2 linked regions of the Homo sapiens genome follow. The protein of the gene in region 1 interacts with the protein of each later gene in a biochemical or structural test. Each region holds a gene or a part of one and is shown on either strand. Other genes may lie near its edges.

What was found. The genes of interacting proteins can lie anywhere in the genome.
Region 2: the proteins of KCTD12 (region 1) and GNG2 form a complex in vitro, tested with the Homo sapiens proteins (one study listed by BioGRID).

What each region holds. Positions count from the first base shown.
Region 1 is NC_000013.11:76,879,675-76,883,170, forward strand, and holds the end of KCTD12 (BTB/POZ domain-containing protein KCTD12), read right to left. Parts: 3' UTR 501-3,496; downstream 1-500. UniProt on the Homo sapiens protein: Auxiliary subunit of GABA-B receptors that determine the pharmacology and kinetics of the receptor response. Increases agonist potency and markedly alter the G-protein signaling of the receptors by accelerating onset and promoting desensitization.
Region 2 is NC_000014.9:51,961,566-51,968,616, reverse strand, and holds part of GNG2 (guanine nucleotide-binding protein G(I)/G(S)/G(O) subunit gamma-2 precursor), read right to left. Parts: intron 2,059-7,051; coding exon 1,930-2,058; 3' UTR 1-1,929. UniProt on the Homo sapiens protein: Guanine nucleotide-binding proteins (G proteins) are involved as a modulator or transducer in various transmembrane signaling systems.

The sequences.
Region 1 (3,496 bases):
ATAACCCAGACGACTTGTTTCTGTGATTTCTCAATCTTAGCAGCACTGTGCCTTCTTTAGAGAGGAGGAACATCAACCACTAGAGATGAGGCAGTAAAGTGCCCCCACATCAAAAAATGCAGCTCCTCTTTCCCAACATTTTTTAGAACCTTCTCATGAACTGTACTTTTAAGTAAAGCACATCTCGAAGCTTCTATTTCCCTGTCCCTATACACAGCAAGTGGCATATGCTGCAGAGAAGTCAAAGAAAATGTTTGTGAAAAACATTTCTTCCATATTAAGTACCAGACCGCCTGGGCATTCTTGACAATAAACTCTGGGGAAAGAAGCTATTTGTGCTTGGTCCTGCTGGCCGGTTCCTTGGTGAAGAGTTCTGATGGCATAATGCTCAGCAGTAGTCCCACAATAATTTGGGAAGTGTTGCCAGTATTTAGAGAACCCCGTAAATGAAATTAGACCAGTGTTCAAGCCAATCCATGCCAAGGAGCCAAGAGGAATAATTAAAGGAGTGAATGTTTTATTCTTTAGTGTTTAATTGAATACATAACAAGTCACATAATCAATGATTCATTACTTCACACACAGGAAGGAAAACAGTAGCTAGTATTTCTGTTATACAACTGGTTGTGAACAGGAAGAACAAAAATCTTTATAGCATTAGATGGTTGAAGAAATTCTCAAAGTTTGGGCATGTCTGAAAAGACTTTGACTGCATCTTTTTTCAATATAAAGGGATTTTTTTCTTACATTTCTGTGTCATTAGAAAAATCTGATAATCTTATAAGATTTTTTCTGCTCTTCTTACATTTAGAGAAAATGGTTTAATGATATGTACTATTTAAAAAATCAGAATCCCAGATAACTCTGTGTGAATCTTACATTGTCTAGCAGATAAGGTTTTCAGATGCCTGGAAAAATTTAAACAACATATAATTTACATCTTCAAAATTAACATCCAGATGGATGTTTTAATCCTTTGTCACTAAATGGTTACTAACGCTGTTTGAGTGGTCATAAATGAATTGTCATTTGTATTCAATAGTAATAGCAAAATTTACCTGCCTATAAAGTCGCAAAAACAGTTGTATAATAGTTTACATTACAATTAATGTACCCATACCTCAAAACACATTTAGAATTTAAAAAAACTGGCTTGGAAAAAAATCACAAAAAATTTAAGTGACAACAAATCTTGATTAACTAGTCCATCTTCCTACCACACATGATTATACTCTAATGTAGATATTCTGGTTGAATTTCTTCCAACCAAGTTTGAAGGGCCCCAGTAGAAAATCAAGTGTTAATACTTTCAGATTTTTATTGTCCAAAACTGTTGACAAAGAAAAGCTAACTTCAACATAACTTGTTTCTGGCTATACAAAGACCTATTTCAGGTGCTACAGATACTGAAAATAGGAGTATTTTACTTATTTCTCAAGAGACAGACTTATGCCATCTAAGAAAATGAATTCAGTTTTTAAATGATTTATAGTAAGGAAAAACAGGAAAACAATTCCAAACGAAGGATTGACTCTGATAGGCTTACAACAAAAATATTCAGTTTACTATTTTAAAAACTAAATTGAGTAAAGTATTTGTGATTTAGACTATAAAATAAATTCTCAAGGAATTCAACCCCTCCAGTCAATACTTTTTCTTAATGTCTGCATTGTAATTTAGCATTTTGCATGTGGGAGTACACAAATGAATTGAATATTGGATCAGAATTTACCCTAACTTGAAGAGTAAAAAGTTATCAAAGTTTCACCTTACATGGCTTTATTGAAATAACATTCCATCGAAAATTCCAATAAAAATTGGAATATATTATGAGCACTGCCAATTGCTCATTTTGTCTGATATTAACAGATTATGCATTTCCTCAGAGAAGCAGTAGGTCCCATATATACAGACATATATATGGCTCTGGTTTGAAAGAGAAGACAATTTTGTCTAGTATTATGATTTATCACTGTGCTATCAATCAAAAACCAGTAGAATACATAACAACATTGAAAGGGAAAAATTTTTAAATCTCACATCTTCAAGGAATATTTTCTACAGCATATCATTTGAAAAAGTAGAATGAATACTGTTCATGGTCCACATGTATTAAAAAACATGTCAATTACTTGGTGCAAACACACAGAACCTGGTACCTGTTTTTTTTTTTTTTTTAACCACCATTGTCTACACCTTTTTAAAAATTAAGTTTGTTACTAAAAGTCCAATGTCATTCACTTGTATTTATGATCATCAAATGGTAATTAGGGCAACATATGTAAATGCATGCCTCTGAATCAGATTCATGCAGTGTTAATTATCTGAATAATTTATGACATTCTCCCAGGTTATTTGAATGGTATCTTTGGAGGGCTTACTCAAATGAACCCACAATACCTCCACTATTACAGCTTATAGGAAATTACAATCCACTTTACAGGCCTCAAAGGTTCATTCTGTGGCCCAAAGCCCATGGAGGGGAAGGGATCTAAAGGTGCTCATGTCAAGTTATTTTACTTGTTTTTTACTGTCTACCCAATGTAAAATGAATTTTCTTCACAGCCTTTACTTTAGGCTAAAAATAGACAGTTTTCTTGTATTGACTTTAACTTTAGAGGGGACAGTCGTCCCTGGAAAAAGAAGTAGATTTACTGTCCCTAACCATTAAATTCCCAGTCTTTCAAATAATGTGCGGGGCGGGGGGTGCTGGGTGTGACAGGGTGCAGTGAATAAGATGCCTATGTACAAGACAGTGGAATAGTTCACCTCAAAGGTTTACAAGATAACATTTGTAAGACTTGAGTGACAGAGGCAAAATTTTAGCAGTTTCTCAAGACTCTTGGAGTTGAGCAGATTTGAGAAGGGAAATCAGAATCGCCGAGCCTTGCCATCTGTCAGTGGTTTTGGTCTGTCCCAAGATGTTCTCAATCATGTGCTTCCTGTTGAACAATCTAACAAAATACCATACGGGGTAGAGAAATCTCTGCAACACTGACTTTTGGTCAGTGAATCAGAGTCCTAAATTATTTCAGGCTTCAAACAGATGAATTCTGATGCATTACTTAGTCTGAGACCAAACTCAACATACAAGCAAGCACAACTTCCTAGATTTCTGCTTCCATTTCGCCTAAAATTACAGGCTTTGTATATGAAGTCAATTTTACTTCTCAAAAAATGTTAGTCTAATAAAAGACCTGAAATCTATTTCCCAACTAAAAAAAAATTAGTGGATTAAAAATACAGGTACCTTGACTTTAAGTAGACAGTTAATCAACATATGATTAGTAATACAACTAATACTCAAGAAAAAAAGTATAATACAGCAAACTCAGTTTTACAATTATGTATTTTTTCCTAACCCAATTCCTCGATAAGGATGTAAGAAACTCATCAAAACATGTTGCTTTAGTATATAAACCAGCTGATGCAAATTACTGGGGTAATATAGGAAATTTTATAGCATTAGTAAATGAATTAAAAAACTAAATGATTC
Region 2 (7,051 bases), on another chromosome or scaffold:
TAACTGTAACAAAAACCCCACAATTTGAACAGAAGAACAGAAGTATCTGGTTACAGAAGTGCATTCATACATTTCACAAATGTTTCAGTATCCTCTTCTCCCCGACCCCAGCATGAGCTTTAATTGGATGTATTTATTCTTTCACCAGCATGCCCATGAAGGAGCTAAGGAAAACATTTACCAAGTCTGTTTCAAAATCTGTCCTTGGCATATCAAACTTTTTCTCTTCCTTTTTCATGCTTTTTTTTTAAAAAAAAAACAGGAGAAAGCGAATAGAGAGGAAAGAGACAATAAAATTAATTGGGAGATGGAGATGATATTTGGGGATTTGAAAGCAAACAAGATGTAAGAGAGGCCCTCTTTGACTGAAAATGACACAGAAAAAGGTGATCAAGTCTTCCAGGGCCTGCTGTTACTGATGGAGACTACAGCTACAATGAAAAATTACTCTCACTACCATATCTTGGGGAAGGAGCGCTCTAGTTGCAAGGAATTTGTAAATAAAGGCCGAGAGACTCTAACAAACAAGATGGAGAACAAAAACAAAGATTCCATTAAAAAATTTGTTAAGTGAAAAACCAAGACCATCTCAGTGGACAAAAGAGCCAGAACTCTTCCTCGTAGAGCCGGCCGTGGGGACCGCACCTGCCGCCCAAAGAGTGGCGATTTGAGGTCCTTCTCCCTGGAGAGTGAATAGCTGGAGTTCTGAGAATGGTCACCTTCTCTGGAGCTGTGGGTTTATTTCTTCTGATACTTGAACAAAGGAGGGCCATGGTTTTCTTGTTAAGAGCACAAAAAAATGTTCTTTTAATCTAGAATGTCCATGATTCAGGGAAAGAGGGAATTTGCTCATACTCATGGCAAAAGCATTTCCCAGCTCATGGTGAATCCTTAACTCTCCTGCTTGGTGACAGCTGTGCTGCCCTGGGTCCTGGATAAACCAAAATGCTTTGGATTCTGGAAAACGTATTGAAGAGGCATTTATACCACTATTAACTAGGAGGTATTTTAGGTGTGGCTAAGGCTCTGAAGTAATCTCAATTTTCAAAATACTGAGATTTTCTTCCCTCTCCGGGGTCTTTTCCCTCTCATTTCCTTTCCCAGCTTTAGAGTAAAACAACAAAACTTCTGAATGGATGTAACATAGGGACATTTTCATGCAATATTACTCAAAAATTGTCACAAATATATGAAAGCACCAGTCACAACACAGGATTTACTTTTACTTGCAGAATCAAAGCTATCATGTACACATGTTAGGAATAGTGAAAAGAGAACACAGACAACCGGCATTTTTTGTCGTTGTTACCATGAGGATACACCACGGGGAACATCTCCCTAAACATTTTGTGTGATCATTCTTGGAGTTCAATCTGATAGACCAGTCCAGCCTTATCTCCACACTACTCTAATGGGGAGGGGTGGAAGGAGGGGTAGAGGAGAAGGAAGAAAGAAAAAGAAAGGCACAGTGACTATACATCAATGCCATTAAACCGAATTGCATCTACACGGGACAGCTCAGCTTATCAAAGGGTATTCTAAAGACAATATTCATTCCAAGAAGGTCACACATATCTTACCTCAGTACAGCTGTCTGTTTTAATTGTTATTTTTCAAAATATGAAGCAGAAACATGAGGATTTTGGGGGGGGGGCTGGGGGATAGCAGAAAAGAAGTGACACCAATTTTATTTTTATATATTCCCCTCCTCCAGGCAGTTCGTCAGAATCAGATCTCTTAAGTCAGGATGTGGATCGGCTTGCATTCTCATAAAGGGGACCAGATCTTTAAACATGCATAGCCTAGAGTTTCCAGAATGGTTCTCCTCGCTCTCTTCAAATGCCGTGGACTAGAAAGGTGCCCACTTCACTAAAAACTCTACATCAATGTCCCAGGAGCCCGGAGGCTCTTCAGGCCCCTCTCAAAGACTTAAAGGATGGCACAGAAAAACTTCTTCTCCCTAAACGGGTTTTCTGAAGCCGGAACAGGGGTCAGGAGGGGGTCTTCCTTGGCATGTGCTTCACAGTAGGCCATCAAATCTGCAGCTGCCTTGGACACCTGGAAAGGGAGACAAAAACAACCAACACTGGAGTCTGGTACAGTCAGTCAAGGCCCAAGGCTTTAGAGCCCAATGTCCTGGCATCAAATCCTTGCTCCATGAAGCAAGATACTCAGCCTCTAAAAGCTTCTGCTTCCTCATCTGCAAAGAAGAAAGTTGACGACACTGACCTTACAGGATTGTTGCCAGCAAGTCTGGGACTAGGTTAAGGTGAGTGAGGCACTTAGGGTGCAGAACCGAAGGAGGCACTCGCTGGCAGGGGCATGCAGGTGTCAACCCTGCACTTCCATAGCCCCGCAGGTGGCTGTCTCCTTCATTTGTTTTTTTTTTTTTTTTTTTTTTTTTTTTGAGATGCAGTCTCGCTCTGTTGCCCAGGCTGGAGTGCAGTGGCTTGATCTTGGCTCACTGCAACCTCTGCCTCCTGGGTTCAAGCAATTATCTTGCCTCAGCCACCCTAGTAGCTGGGACTACAGGTGTGTGCCATGGTGCCTGGCTAATTTTTTGTACTTTTGGTAGAGACAGGGTTTCACCACGTTGGCCAGGCTGGTCTTGAACTCCTGGACTCAAGTGATCCACCTGTCTCGGCTTCCGAAAGTGCTGGGATTACAGACGTGAGCCACTGTGCCCGGCCCTCCTTCACTTTTGTGCTCCGATATCTCATTGCCCCACCCTGGTCCCAGCCCTGGTAACAAGGGTTAAATGAAAAAATCCCTGTAAATCATTTAGTGTCTGGCACATAGCAAGCTTTCCACACAGGCTAGCCATTATTATCATTTTGTAGTCGTGACTCTCTGCTTCAGGAATTGTGCTAGGGATGCCTAAAACCATGTCAATTTCCCTTTTTAAGCAGATGCAGCAGGAGATATATCTATGTATACACACACTATATAGAACATATTTTTATACTTCATATATATTAAAATTTATACCTGTGACTTTAACCAAGCATTGTGCCCTTTAGTGATATTTCACTGGGAGGTCGTCACTGATTCTGGCGATGCTGTCATTTCTTACAACATATTTGTAGCTGCTTGTTATGAGTTCCCTGTAGTACCTTCCTTCAACCATCTTCACCAGAGGAAATTTTTACTACATTAGAGCGTGGATTTAGTTTCAGGAAATAAACTAAAAGTCATCTATAGCTACATCTGGGGACTAGGTAAATGATCAACCTGGGGAATGCCATTTGGGGTCAAATTTTTACATAAAATAACACATTTCCACATGAAAGCAACACCACTGTACTACTACGAACGCCTGTCAAGTAACTACTGAAAGGATATCAAAGCAACTACTGAAAGGATAATCTAATTTAAGATTTGGGTGAATTATATTATTACTAAAGATAGTCACTGCCCCTTCCTACAAGTGGGACATACATGCCCACATGATGACATCAGACTTGCCCAGTGACATAAGCTTGCTCTGGCCAGAGAGATGTGAGCAGAATTTATGTGGATCAATTATGGGCAGAAACTTTAGGAGCCAATGCACAGTTTGCCATGTCCCTTCCTCTATACCACTTCGTCCGACTGAAATAATTTATGAGGAACCCTCTTAATTGATGCAGAGGTTTTAACAAATGGCATAGTGGCAATATCCTTGATTTGTTTCTTGTCCCAGGGCTGAGTTGATTAAAGCTTTGTCACTCCTGCCTCAGCCTCCTGAGTAGCTGGGACTACAGGTGCATGCCACCATGCCTAGCTGGTTTTTCAAAAATGTTCTTGCTATTTTGCCCATGCTGGTCTTGAACGCCTGACCTCAAGCCATCCTCCCGCCTCACCTTCCGGAGTCCTGGGATTACAGGTGTAAGTCACTGTGCCTGGCCTTTTTTACTTAAGGCTACTTCAACTTTATGATTTACTGGTTGGGTAGAGAAATCAGTTTCCTCTTCTCATCCCATAAACCGTTGAATTTTTGGGGTCTCTGTTCCCTTTGCCACAGAACAGATAGAAGCAACATTCTGGACAGAGGCTGCTCCATCTGCCAGCATCCCTGATGAAGGTGACATGGTGTGGAGTGGCAGCTGATTTATGATTGACATATGGTAGGAGTGAGAAGTGTGACTGTGCTATTGCAAACCCCTAAGAATGAAGGGTAGGGCACCTTCTGTTACTACCACAACATCTAGCCAACCCTAATTGACACAAAGAGGTACAGGTATTGGTTTGTGTATTTGTTTCCTCTGGCTGTCTTGAACAAGTCCTCACAAACTGGGTAACTTAAAACAACAGAAATTTATTCTGTTAGAGACTAGCAGTTTGAAATCAAGGCATCAGCTTGGTTGGTCCCTTCTGGAGGGTCTGAGCGAGAATCTGTTCCATGCTTCTCTCCTAGTGCCTGGTGGTTGCTGGCAATCTTTGGTATCCCTTGGCTTATAGACATATCACTCCAATCTCTGTCTCTATTTTCACATGGAATTCTCTCCTGAGTGTCTGTGTCTTTATGTGGCATTCTCCTCTCTGTGTGACCAAATTTCCCATCTCACCAGTTAGAGTTACCCTAATCCAGTATGATTCCTCTTAATTTGATTACATCTACAAATACCCTATTTCCAAGTAAGGCCACATTCTAAGATTCCAGGTGGGCATAAATTTTAGGGGACACTAGTCAACCCAATACATGATATGTATGTAAAAATCAGTCTCACTTTTTAATAGACATTACAGTACTTACAAAAATATTTTTATTTTATCCTTATTTTGTTCCAGACATTGAGTTAAATTTCCTCTTTTGATCTTCACAGTAATCCTGAGGTAAGAATTATTATCCTCTTTTTATAGATGAAAAATTGAGGCTCAGCAGATTATATAAGTTGTTCAATATCATAGAGCAAAGCACACAGCAGAAAAAGAACTTGAACTCGAATGTGTTGCCATTAAGCCACAGCCATCTGCATATAAACTACTCAAATGTGGGCTTTGTTCCAAAGGTTGAAATTGAAATTCTTTATGAAATGCTTCTATGACAAAATGAAAGGAAACAGCCTGTTTATGTCTTAGCTCTCCCACATGAAAACAAAGGACAGACTTTCAGACTGAATTGAGATCACTTTTTTTCTTCATTCTTTCTTCTTGTTTGAGCGATAGTCATTGTTACACCAAACAGGAGCTTAGCTGTTAGGCAGTGGAGACAGTAAATCAGTGATATCTAAAACTCATTTGTTACGAGGAGAAGCAGCACCGTTCATCCCTACCCGTTTGCAACACTCACATACAACTATGTAGCATGAATATTCAAAATCTTTTTATGATACAGGAAGTACTATACTAGGAAAATTTAATAACTTAGAGCTGCTCATATCTTTATATTTGAACATTTGATTCTGAATGGTTTCCTTCTTAAAATATATTATGTGTTTTATCTTGTTTCCTCAACAAGACTGCAATCTCCTGTGGGCAATGCTCCAACAGTGTCAGAATCCCAGCAGTAATTAGAATAATTGCTAATATTTATCAGCCCTTGCTATGTGTCAGAACTGTGCTAACCACTTTACATACGGTATCTTATTTAATCCTTACAACAACATTATGGGTCACAAGCTATTATCATTCTCATCTTAAATATGTGAAGTGGAGGCTTCATTAAGTGTTTGCCCCAGGTCCCACAGCTCCTGAGCTACTGAGTTGTGAGTCTCAATGTCCCTGACTTAATCTTCATGAACATTCCTCCTTTCTAACCTGTGGCTGTCTTCCTTGTCCTGTGCCTTATAATGAGTCACAGCAATCGTGTGCCTAGCAGATCTTTCTGCTTTCTGACAATCCCTGCTAACATTTTGCACACAGCTTCTTCTACATTCGTATGCCTACTTCTTCCATGAAGATTTCCCCAATAACTCCAGAAAATCTCTCCCTTTTCTGTCCTGTTGATTCTTCCTCCAAAGATATCTCAAATTTGGCTCCCTTCCTGTTATATCTATTGCAGCTACCCCAGTTCATACTGCAGTCTTCTCTCTTTGTGATTACTAAAATAACTTTGTAAATAAAGGCAATTAATTTGGATTACCCCAGGGTTCCACAGATCGAATTCGGGGGGTGGTATGTGAACTTCAAATAATACAAAAAATTTACATCTTTATTTTTCACTAACCTCAAATGGAAATTTAACATTTCCTCTCATTATAAATATAGACAACACACTGCAGTAGCCCTAGCAGTACATGTGACTTGGCCACTGATAGATACCAGATACTTTCAATCACATTATATTCATTGCAGACACCTCAACACTGCATTTCTGTTCATCCACCTTATGATTGTAGACCTATTAGATCTTACATAATCAGTTAACAAAGGAGTACCTATGTATAACTACATCACATATATTTTTAAAAATTGATATTTTAAATAATATTATTTAAAATGTTTTACAAAAATATTCTAATGACCCTCATGTCAATATAATTAGTTTCTTTTGTAATTTAAAAACATGATTCTAAGAAGGAGACCATAGGCTTGAGCAGACAGACAAATGAGTCAAGAGCACAAAAATGTTTAATTATCTCAGTTTTAAATGATTTCCTGTGTTCATAACTATGCAGGAGTAGTATTCTCCATACTGTAGCTAGAAAGATATTTTTAAAATACAAGTGGATTCCTATCATTCTCCTATTTAAAACCTTCAATAACTTCTCATTGTAATTTGTAGAAAACCAAAACTTTGTAAAACAGCCTGTGGGTATTGCATGTTTTGGGCCTCCCCCTCTCTCCAATTTCATGTTGTAGCATTCTTCCCTCTCAAATATCTCCTTTACTTTTTGAAAGCTCCAAGTTCTTTTTTGCCTCAGAGTGTCACATATTCAGTATCCTAGAATATTGTTCTCTTCATCTCCTCAATGGGTTGGCTTATCATCTTCCTTCAGAAGTCAGCAGAAATACCACCTCCTTGCAGAACCTTCACTGATCGCCTCATCCACAGTGACTTTCCTGATTATTTTCTCTCAGAGTACTTTCTCACATTCTTCTCTTTCACAGAAATTATAAATTGCTTTCA